Regions from separate parts of the Homo sapiens genome. Here region 1 is linked to region 2. The links come from fine-mapping of genetic effects on gene expression. Tissue or cell type: esophagus mucosa. Region 2 holds a variant in brackets; the other region holds the start of a gene. All regions are shown on one strand. Distances are from middle to middle.

The links. PIP is the estimated chance that this variant, and not a neighbour inherited with it, causes the effect. A credible set is the group of variants that fine-mapping cannot tell apart.
Region 1: it holds the start of ZNF343, and the variant in region 2 is the best candidate, but not a certain one, in a credible set for the expression of ZNF343 in esophagus mucosa (GTEx, PIP 0.68).

What each region holds. Positions count from the first base shown.
Region 1 is chr20:2,506,184-2,511,556 of GRCh38, reverse strand. ZNF343 (zinc finger protein 343) reads left to right here and starts at 2,642. Exons shown (of 6, transcript NM_024325.6): 1 at 2,642-2,676. RefSeq lists enhancers at 1,221-1,816, 2,358-2,667, 3,318-3,377.
Region 2 is chr20:2,555,914-2,561,286 of GRCh38, reverse strand. It overlaps TMC2 (transmembrane channel like 2), which reads right to left. Exons shown (of 20, transcript NM_080751.3): 3 at 2,513-2,831. Among named protein-coding and RNA genes, the nearest start is that of TMC2, 22 kb to the right of the region's middle. RefSeq lists an enhancer at 2,538-3,248. The variant G/A (reference allele first, on the strand shown) is at 3,064.

The sequences.
Region 1 (5,373 bases), 50 kb after region 2:
TATTCACGTGATGAATAACAGTCACATGGAGCACAGAGGGATGCTGAGGGAGGGCTCCAGATCAAGGGCTGGATTTGAAACTGTCCCAATTGTCCCACAGAATTGATGTTTATGGTTTCTTTGAATAAACAGAAATTGGTCCTTCCAGGCCAGGTGCGGTGGCTCATGCCTGTAATTCCAGCACTTTGGGAAGCTGAGGTGGGAGAATCACCTGAGCCTAGGAGTTTAAGATCAGCCTGGGCAACATGGTGAAACCCCATCTCTACAAAAAATTAAAAAATATTGCCAGGTGTGGTGGCATGTGCCTGTAGTCCCAACTACTCGGGGCTGAGGTGGAAGACTCACTTGAGCCCAGGAGGTTGAGGCTACATGAGCGGTGATCATGCCACCGCACTCTAGCCTGAATGACAGAGCAAGTCCCTGTCCAAAAAAAAAAAAAGAAAGGAAAAGGAAAGAAAAGAAATGGATTCCCCCAGTCTTAAAACTTGAGAAGGTCACATTTGTCCTGAGTTCCTTTCTCAGGAAAACCAAACATCAGGCCTCCCAGATAGTATCAAGGAGCTGCAACTTACCAAATCATTGCATGTGGACAATGAGAACCCACACTCCTCATCAGTCATATTGCCTAACCAATCACCTCCTTCCTGTTCCAACTTACCTCTCCCTAATTTCTGTTTTCCCACACATAGTTACATTTCTTCCCTGCTATACAAACCCCTGATTTTGGTCAGTCAGGGAGATGGATGTGAGACTGATCTCCCATCTTCTTGGCTGCAGCACTCAATTAAGGCCTTCTTCCCTTGCAATACTCGTCTCAGTGATTGGTTTTCTGACTGGCAACCAGCAGGACCTAGACCCAACCCCTGGTGTTTCAGTAACAGATTCTGCCCAGTACTAACACGGCAGCCTCCAAGACAAGAGAAGGGAATTGGTCCTTTCTGTGAAAGGCAGGACAGAATATCAAGAAATGTTTGTCTGTCTCCTGGCTCACAACGGCCTTGGGGCCATGTTCTCTATCTCCTGAGTACTGGAGAACAGAGAAGCCTCAGAAGGCTGATATTGGGAAGGTGAAAAGAAATAAGAAGATGGAAGGAGGTGTTGGAGAAAATAAAAACAAAATCTCCTGCTAACCCAGAAAATCCCCTTCACAAACGTAGAAAAGAAGGAGAACAGTTTTATTACCAAATAATATTGAACTGGACTGGGAAGCACATTGTAGACAATCTGCTAATCAGATGCCAGACAGAAAGAGATCTTACTTTTTATCTAGTTGGGCAGATACAATCTATTACAAACATGTCCTCAAAATTAATGGTAATTTGCCCCCTTGTAAGAGGATTTGACATTGTTTGCTATACAATTTTTCATAATTCATTCTAAATTCACCTGGTAATTGGAGTAGCCATCTACACTAGTTAATTGCCTTTATCAAAAAGAAAAAATAAAACTTTTATCTGTGACAAGCGGGCAGTTACGAGTTTGGAGCTAGGCACCTAAGCTAAACTCCCAAGGTGACAGGGAGATAAGGGCACTATCTTCTTCACTGTTTACATTTCAAAGAGATGGCTCATCAGGCCTTTGGGGGAAACATTCCTCTTTTGTAAAGTTGGCAGGTGCTTATTCAGCCTTTCAAAAGTATCAGGTACATATCAAAGGAGCACTTATACATAGATTTCTCATGGAAATACTCCAAGGGCGTGAGGTCAGGTTTATTTCCCCTTCAGTAACAAGTAAAATTTAATTCAATTTGTATTTGCCATTAAGATTTAAACGCGCCTCCTATGAGCTGAAGGTCTGATCTGCAAACCCCTAATTGCCGTGTTGCAGAAGGTACCAGCGTAGCCCAGTTTTAAAAATATTATTAGTTTTAAAATATATACATTTAACTCCTGGGCTCAAGCCATCCTCCAGCCTCAGCCTCAGCCTCCCTCGGGGTTACAGGAATCCCAGGCGCGCGCCACCACGCCCGGCTCTAGTAGCCCAGATCTGAACCGGGATCTTAGATAAGAGGCCAGAGAGCCAGACTCCAGCCTGAGTGAAGCTTCCACCCTCCAGAAACTGGATGAGAGTCTGTCCCTAACTTTGAGGACTTCGACAAGAAAGGTGACTACAGGCCACCCACAGGAGTGCACTGGTGTTGAGGGTAAGGGTTCAACTGAGACGCTGGGAGGCGGCTTTGCCCTGCCTGTGTGTCACAGGCAACACGAAGTCGAATCTACATAGTGCTCACGCAAGGTAGTTCGCGTGCTATGGAGCCTCAGCCCAGGGAATTCAGGTGGTCCGGTGCAGTAAACTCTGTACCCAACACACGCCTGACAGACAGCGCATTGCTCCCGCTAGATTCGCCAATCGGAAATGACTTCTCTCGTTGACCCCAGCTTCCGGAAGCGCCTGCGGAAGCTGCCGCAGAGGCTTGTGGGGAGTGTAGTCTTTTTTTTGCAGAATGGGCCAAGGGGACAGAGACTTCACTCGGGAGCCAGAACCTGTTTTCAACATGGGTATTTTAAGAAGAGACGGAGAGGCTGTCACTGCAGTGGTCACTGTCCTGGAAAAGTAACCGTTGCACGGCCCAGAAGTGGCTCTGTGGCGGCCAATGGGAGCCGAAGCCTGCGAGGATGTTGGGAATTGTAGTTCTGGCGTCGGTCGGTGGCCGAGATCCCGGGCACGCTGGCTCTGGTGAGCGCGGCCTCCGCGGCTCCTTGGCCCCAGGATGCCCTCTCTCGTGGGGAAAGGAGGGTCGGGAAAGGCCGAGCGTAGGTTAGGACGCGGGGTAGAGTGTGGCCAATGGGGAGTGCGGGTTGGAGATATTTGGTTTTTGGAGGAGAGGGCGCAGCTCGCGGTGCTCATTGGGGCGAGGCGATGGGGTGAGCCCCTGCTTGCCCGGACCTCCGCGGACCTTTTTTCCCCCCGGGGGGACGAGAGTGACCTAGAACTCTAATGCCTGTCTTGAACCAGGCGGGATTATTCTGGGTCAACCAGTTTTCGAATACGGAGGGCGGCCCCAGTCGTGCGTCCTGGGGTTTATTTGGGCTGTGGGGTTGAGTTCTGCCAGGGCCAAATGGACCAACATCCCCGCGGCTGGGGTGGGGACGTGGCTAGGTCCGCACATCCCTGGGTGGTTTTTGGCTGGGGAGCGTCTTGAGTCCTGCATCACCGAGTTTTTCTGTTTTTTGGGTGGGGCTGGATATGTCCCGAGTGGTGACCGGGGTGGTTAGGGGGAGGCCGTCTCAGGCCTTGATGCTTGATGGACCTTGGTTTATTAGGGGTTGGGGGGTTGGAAGTGGAGGTGAGCTTGACGTGGTCAAAATATCCTGAGAGGGCCTGGGCGAGTGTCTTGGGTCAGGAGTCCCTGGGGTTTTTAGGGAGGTGAGGGAGGTTTCGTCCTCTGATAGTGGTGGGCTGTATCACTCTGACAGGCATCTAGGCAGCTCTTTTGAATGGGGGCAGGTCTTTTCTCTGGGACCTGTTGTCTCAAGGTGTGTCATGTGGGAGGTGCCCCCTGTGCTTTGTGGCAAAGTTCCTGGGTTTGGTCGTCATCTGGGTGGCCCGTCTGGCTGACTCCTTTCCTGGACTGCTTTTCCCTCACATGTTAGGGCCAAACATCTGGTTTGGGGCTGTGAAGGGTTAGGTCTGGTGGGGAACTCTGACGGCTTCTAGTTAACAATCCAAATCACTTCCGGCATATGGTGAGTTCTGGATATCAGGCGTTTAATTTTATTTTTAATTTTTTCGTAGGGACAAATTTTAAACCTACCTAGTAGAGCTATTCAGTGAACTGCCACGGACCTGTCACCAGATTCCACATTTGTTAACTCATGGCCAATTTTGTTTCATCTACATCCCCTCAACCCTATGTGTGGATACACTTTGAGAATTGTCAGACCCCACAGGGATTGGCCATTGCTGACATCATTACTGGCCCAGCTGGCTAAGCGTGTGGCGCTCCACAGCTAGACTTCAAATCTAGGCACTTTCTAGCATTGTCAATTTGAGGAAGGTGTAGAACTCATGGAGCTTTGGGGAGGTAAAACTTGCATGGTGTCTGGAATTGCCTCTGGTATACAGTAAGAGTTTAGTAAGTGTTAACTATTACTAATAGTATTATAATTTGAGGCCCATAGGCATTAAAGGGATAAATATGTAATAGCAGCTTGTCAGGGCAGACTGTATTCTGATGTCCCCACATGGTTCTGTCCCCTAGAAGCTGTTTACATTATTCTCTTCTCTGACAGATCTGAGGCTTATTTTGTTAAAGGAAAAGGAGGCCTGCTCTTTTTTTTTTTTTTTTTTTTGAGACACAGTTTCACTCTTGTTGCCCAGGCTGGAGTGCAGTGGCGCGATCTCGGCTCACCGCAACCTCCACCTCCCGGGTTCAAGCGATTCTTCTGTCTCAGCATCCCGAGTAGCTGGGATTACAGGTGTGCGCCACCATGCCCAGCTAATTTTGTATTTTTAGTAGACACGGGGTTTCTCCATGTTGGTCAGGCTGGTCTCGAACTCCTGACCTCAGGTGATCTGCCTGCCCCGGGCCTCCCAAAGTGCTGGGATTACAGGCATGAGCCACCGCTCCCGGCTGGCCCACTCATTTTATTTTTTTATCTTTTTTTTTTTATTATACTTTAAGTTCTAGGGTACATGTGCGCAACGTGCAGGTTAGTTACGTATGTATACATGTTCCATGTTGGTGTGCTGCACCCAGTAACTCATCATTTAACATTAGGTATATCTCCAAATGCTATCCCTCCCCGCTCCCCTCACCCCACAACAGGCCCCGGGGTGTGATGTTCCCCTTCCTGTGTCCATGTGTTCTCATTGTTCAATTCCCACCTATGAGTGAGAACATGTGGTGTTTGGTTTTTTGTCCTTGTGATAGTTTGCTGAGAATGATATTTTCCAGCTTCATCCATGTCCCTACAAAGGACATGAACTCATCATTTTTTATGGCTGCATAGTATTCCGTGGTGTACATGTGCCACATTTTCTTAATCCAGTCTATCATTGTTGGACATTTGGGTTGGTTCCAAGTCTTTGCTATTGTGAATAGTGCCGCAATAAACATACGTGTGCATGTGTCTTTATAGCAGCATGATTTATAATCCTTTGGGTATATACCCAGTAATGGGATGGCTGGGTCAAATGGTATTTCTAGTTCTAGATCCCTGAGGAATCGCCACACTGACTTCTACAATGGTTGAACTAGTTTACAGTCCCACCAACAGTGTAAAAGTGTTCCTATTTCTCCACATCCTCTCCAGCACCTGTTGTTTCCTGACTTTTTAATGATCGCCATTCTAACTGGTGTGAGATGGTATCTCATTGTCGTTTTGATTTGCATTTCTCTGATGGCCAGTGATGATGGGCATTTTTTCCTGT
Region 2 (5,373 bases):
TTTAGACATACTTAAAAGATTCCCAAGAACTGAATCAAGTAGCAGAATATGGTTTTCCTTTGATATTTGTATCTGCATTGACAACAGTAGTTTGTCTTTTTGTAGAAGAACTGTTTTGGCTTCAAAGTCAAATCAAATCAGTTTCAAAACTACATCTGTCCAAATTAAGTAAATTCACCAACTCTTATGTCAACTCAGTGGCATTAACACTGAGTTACAATTAAATGAGGAATTCAGTTGCTCAGTCACACTGGCCACATTTCAAGTGCTCAGCAGCCACATGCAGCTAGTGGCTGTCATATTGGACAGCAGGGCTGTGGAGAATTTCCAGCTGGGGAGCTCCCCATCTCCCAGATAATACTATGTGCTCAGTTGTCACAAAATCCAAGTGTCTGTGTGTGCTCCCTACAGCCTCCAGCCTATTCTGACTCCATTTTTTTTTTTTTTTTTGAGATGGAGTCTTGCTCTGTGGCCCAGGCTGGAGTGCAGTGGCGCAATCTCGGCTCACTGCAAGCTCCACCTCCTGGGTTCACGCCATTCTCCCACCTTAGCCTCCGGAGTAGCTGGCACTACAGGCACCCGCCACCACGCCTGGCTAATTTTTTGTATTTTTAGTAGAAATGGGGTTTCACCATGTTAGCCAGGATGATCTCGATCTCCTGACCTCGCGATCCACCCACCTCGGCCTCCCAAAGTGCTGGGATTACAGGCGTGAGCCACCACGCCCGGCCTCTGACTCCTTTAGTGATGAAAAATAGTGACTCTCAGCTGAGTGAGACAGCGCCCAATCGGGTAGGTAAAGGAAAGGACTAAGGAAGGGTTATGGCTGGGCAGCCTGAGTGTGTTTCATAAATGGTAGTATTAGGGTGTGGGCTTGGGTTACTGCAGGTTTTAGAGACAGGTTTGCAGCAGCCTCTGGGTGTTTTAGCTTCTGATTAACTCCTGGGGAGCAAAGAAGAAGTTTTAGGATGCCCTTGAAGGTTGAAAAGCCTAGAACACAGAGATATTTTTTTTTTTTTTGCCATACTTCATGCACACCCAATTGATGATATCTGCCTTTGAGTCTCTGCGTAGGGTGTTCCCACAGTTTGGGGTGTTGGACATTCAGTCATTGCTTATTTAGATTCCACCTGTTATTCAAAGCCTCACTGGGATGTTCACCTTCTCCATGGAGGAACCCTGATGGCCCAGCACCCGGGGAATTCAGCGCTCCATCAAGTCCTGTCTTGCATGCATATTGCTTTCTGCCTTGTCTTAGGATTACCAATGCCTATGTGTTATCTCCTCTGCCACACTGTCAGTATCTAGGCAACGGGAACTGAATGTTTTCATCTCTCTAATGCCTTGGCATGGCCCTCAGCTGAAAATGACATAAATGAGTCTGTGGCCCATTGGGATGGTACAGGCTCCCTCTAAAGTTCAGGGCACCCAGGGCCCATCAACGGTGCATTCACGTTATTTTTAAATGGCCAAGGGCACGATGCACCCTTTACCTCTTTAGTTCATGTCTGGGAGCAACCAGACAGTAGACAAAGGCTGTAACCAAGCCAGGATGGTTGGCATGGCGACAGGAAAAAAATCAGTGCCCTTGTTTAAAAGCCTCTCTGTAAAGGTGGAGAGGAAGATGGAGCACCCAACTGAGGCTGTGGGCAAAAAGGATTTGCTACAAACCACCGGGAAAGAACATCAACTCTTCACCATAATCCTAATATTCCCAACTGTTGCAAAAGAATTCCTATTCTATCACAAAGAATTCTTAAAACAATATGAGCAACGAATAAGGCATCTGTTATCCTCAATGACTGAAAAAGGGAGGCAAAGAGAGAGACACCTATTAAAATTGATAACAAAAACATGAACCCCAAATCTTCACTTTCTGATGCCATAAGCTGGCCCTGTCCACTAACCCACACGTGCTAGTTGGTGCCAATGGTAATGGAACAAAGGAGGCAAAACAAATAAAACCTCCAAGCTCCAGAATTTCAGAGCTGGTAGCATCCTTGAAGGTCTCCTGGACCAGTGCCACATTTCCAGCAGAGGAAACTGGCCCAGATCCGGAAGCCGGAACGAGGTGTGCTTAAGCCCTCAGATGGTTCCTGAGTCCGATTTTGTTCATGTCGCTCAGCTCCTCCTCTTCGAGAGCCGGGGTGAGTCACCAGCTGGAGTTCAGGGGACGCGGGATCGTGTCCCACCCGCTGCCCTGTCACCTCTCCACCCGCGCCCCGCCACCTCTCCACCCGCGCCCCGCCTCACCGGGTGCCACGAGGCGCTGGAGTGGAGAGCCCGCGGCCACTCCCCCGCGCGGACCCGCGATCTTCATCCCGGTTCTGGGATGAAGAACCCACCGCAGAGTGGGGCAGTGGTAAGGGCTGGGAGGCACGGAAGCCAGAGCGAGGGCACGGGCTGCCTCTCCCCGGGGAGGGGGGCATCAGTCCCTCACGGGGGAAGGGGAAGGGCCGCGAAGGAGCGGGAGCGCGCGGAGCGAATGCCCAGAATCGGAGCCACAACACACCTGGGTTTCTTCTGCCGCTTCGACTTCTCCTCCCTCCTCGGAATCTCCTTTTCCCTCTTTGGGGCTGCTGTCCGCTCCTGGAAGGAGGCCCTCTCGTCGCGCTTTCTCCTGCCCTCGCAGGTCCTCTCTGCCTCGCCCCGCTCCTGCTCCCCCAGCTCTTCTCTGTGTCTCCTGCGCCCTGTTTGCTTCCTCCGGGGAGACCCCGGGCTTGGGCTGCCCCCGGCGCGCTCCTTCTGGCTTCGCTGAGCTCCGCGCCTGCCTGGGGTCCCCTCGGCTTTGAGAGCCCGCTTGCTTGAGGATCTCCTTCCCAGCCTGTCACCTGCCGGGGCGGGAAAATGGACAGTTCTGGTTCCAACGGCCTCAGGCCCAGGAAAATGTCCCCGGCCGTGAGAAATCAGACGTCCAAGATGATTCCGAGAGCTTGTGAGCTCTGCGGGGCTCAGAACAGGACACCCCAAAGTATGGCACCTTGGCATGTTGAGTATTTTAAGCTGAAGGAAACTAAGAAAACTGCAGAAGCAGGAAGGTCACTCTCTGGCCTTCTCCCTCCC[G/A]TCTCCCTTGAAGACCTCCTGTGACAGGTGTCCTGCCCTATACCCAAGGAAAGGAAAGTCACACAGAGAGGCCAAGAGGAATCGGAACAAACAGGCCTTGCTACTTCCCCCTGGTTGATTACCATGACATCATACCCTTTTGTCCTCCGATCATACTTCTGCACAACTCTCCATAAAAATACAGTTTTCCCTGTATATTTGGGTCTTCGTTTCTGAAGGCTCTTGTGTTCCCTAAAACTTACATTAAATAAAATTGGATGCGTTTATCTTGTTAATCTGTCTTTTGTTATTGGGGTCTCATCCACAAACCTTGCAATGGCTAAGGAAAGAAATCTCTTCTCCCTCTAGGTCCAAAGGCCACCTATTCTGAAAGCTTCTGGTCTGGGTGAGAATGACTGCCTTGGTGGGGGCGCACTTTCATCAGTTTTACCTCCAGGAGCCCTACCAAATTTTCACTGTGAGGTCAGGAGTTGGAGACCAGACTGGCCAAGGTGGTGAAACCCCATCTGTACTAAAAATACAAAAATTAGCTGGGCGTGGTGGTGCATGTCTGTAATTCCAGCTACTTGGAAGGCTAAGGCAAGAGAATCGCTTGAACCCGGGAGGTGGAGGTTGCAGTGAGCTGAGATCACACCAGTGCACTCCAGCCTAAGCGACAAGAGCGAGACTCCATCTGAAGAAAACAAAATAAAATAAAAATAACTGATTAATATGTTAACAGATCTAATGGATAAAATGGACAACATGCAAGAACAGATGAGTAATGTAATCAAAGAGATTGAAACTCTAAGAAACAATAAAAAAGAAATGGTAAAAACCAAAAACACTATAATAGAAGTAAAGAACACCTTTGATGGGCTCATTAGTAGACTGGTCACAGTCAAGGAAAGAGTCAGTGGGCGGAGGATATGTCAATAGAAACTTCCCAAACTGAAAGCAAAAAGAAAAGAAATTTCAGAGATGGAACAAAATATCCCCAAACTGTGGGACAATTTCAAAAGGAGTAACATATGTGTAATGGGAATGCCAGAAGGCAAACAGAGAAAGGAACAGAAGAAATATTTGAATTAATAATTGCTAAGAATTTTCTAATATTAATGACAAACACCAAACCACACATCGAGAAAGCCCAGAGAACATCAAGCAGGATAAATGCCAAAAATCTCCACCTAGGCATATCGTATTCACACTGCAGAAAACCAAAGACAAAGATAAAATCTTGAAAAAAGCTGGAGGAAAAAACTCACCTTACCTGTTGGTATAAAGATAAGAATTACACTAGATTTTGCTCCAGAAACTGTGCAAGTTAAGAGAGTAGAGTGATATATTTAAAGTGCTGACGGAAAAAAAAAAAAGGACAGAATTCTGTATCCATCAAAAGTATTCTTCAAAAGTGAGGAAGATAGACTTTCTCAGACAAACAAAAACGGAGATAATTTGTTGTCAGTAGACCTGCCTTGCAAAAAAAGTTTTATTTTATTTTCATTTAGAAACAGGGACTCTGTTGCCTAGGCTGGAGTGCAGTGGTGCCATCATAGCTCACTATAACCTTGCACTGCTGGGCTCAAGTGATCCTCCTGCCTCAGCCTCCCAGCTAATTAAAAAACAATTTTTTTTTAAAGATGGAGTATCACTATCTTGCCCAGGCTGATCTCAAACTCCTGGCCTCAAGAGATTCTCCTGCCTTAGGCTACCAAAGTGCTGGGATTATAGGCATGAGCCACCCTGTCCAGCCCCTCAAAATGTTAAAGGAGGTTCTTCAGAGGGAAGGAAAACGACATAGGTCAGAAACTTGGATTTACATAAAGGAAGAGCATTCAAGAAGCAATAAATAAAGAAAAAATAGGCCAAACCTGGTGGCTCACGCCTGTAATCCCAGCACTTTGGGAGGCTGAGGTGGGTGGATCATGAAGTCAGGAGTTCGAGACCAGCCTGGCCAACATGGTGAAACCCCGTCTCTATTAAAAATTAGCCAGGCATGATGGCACGTGCCTGTAATCCCAGCTACTGGGAAGGCTGAGGCAGGAGAATCACTTGACGCTAGGAGGTGGAGGTTGCAGTGAGACGAGATCGCACCACTGCACTCCAGCCTGGGTGACAGAGCAAGGCTCCGTCTCAAAAAAAATAAAAATAAAAAATAAAAAATAAAATCCTTCTTTTTAAATTCCTAACTGACCTAAAAGATAAGGGTTTGTTTAGGATAACAATAGCAACAATATGTTGGATAATCATAGCTTATGGATAAGCTAAATGAATTACAGCAATGTCAAAGAGATGGGAGGGAGACATTGGGAATACCCTTTTATAAAG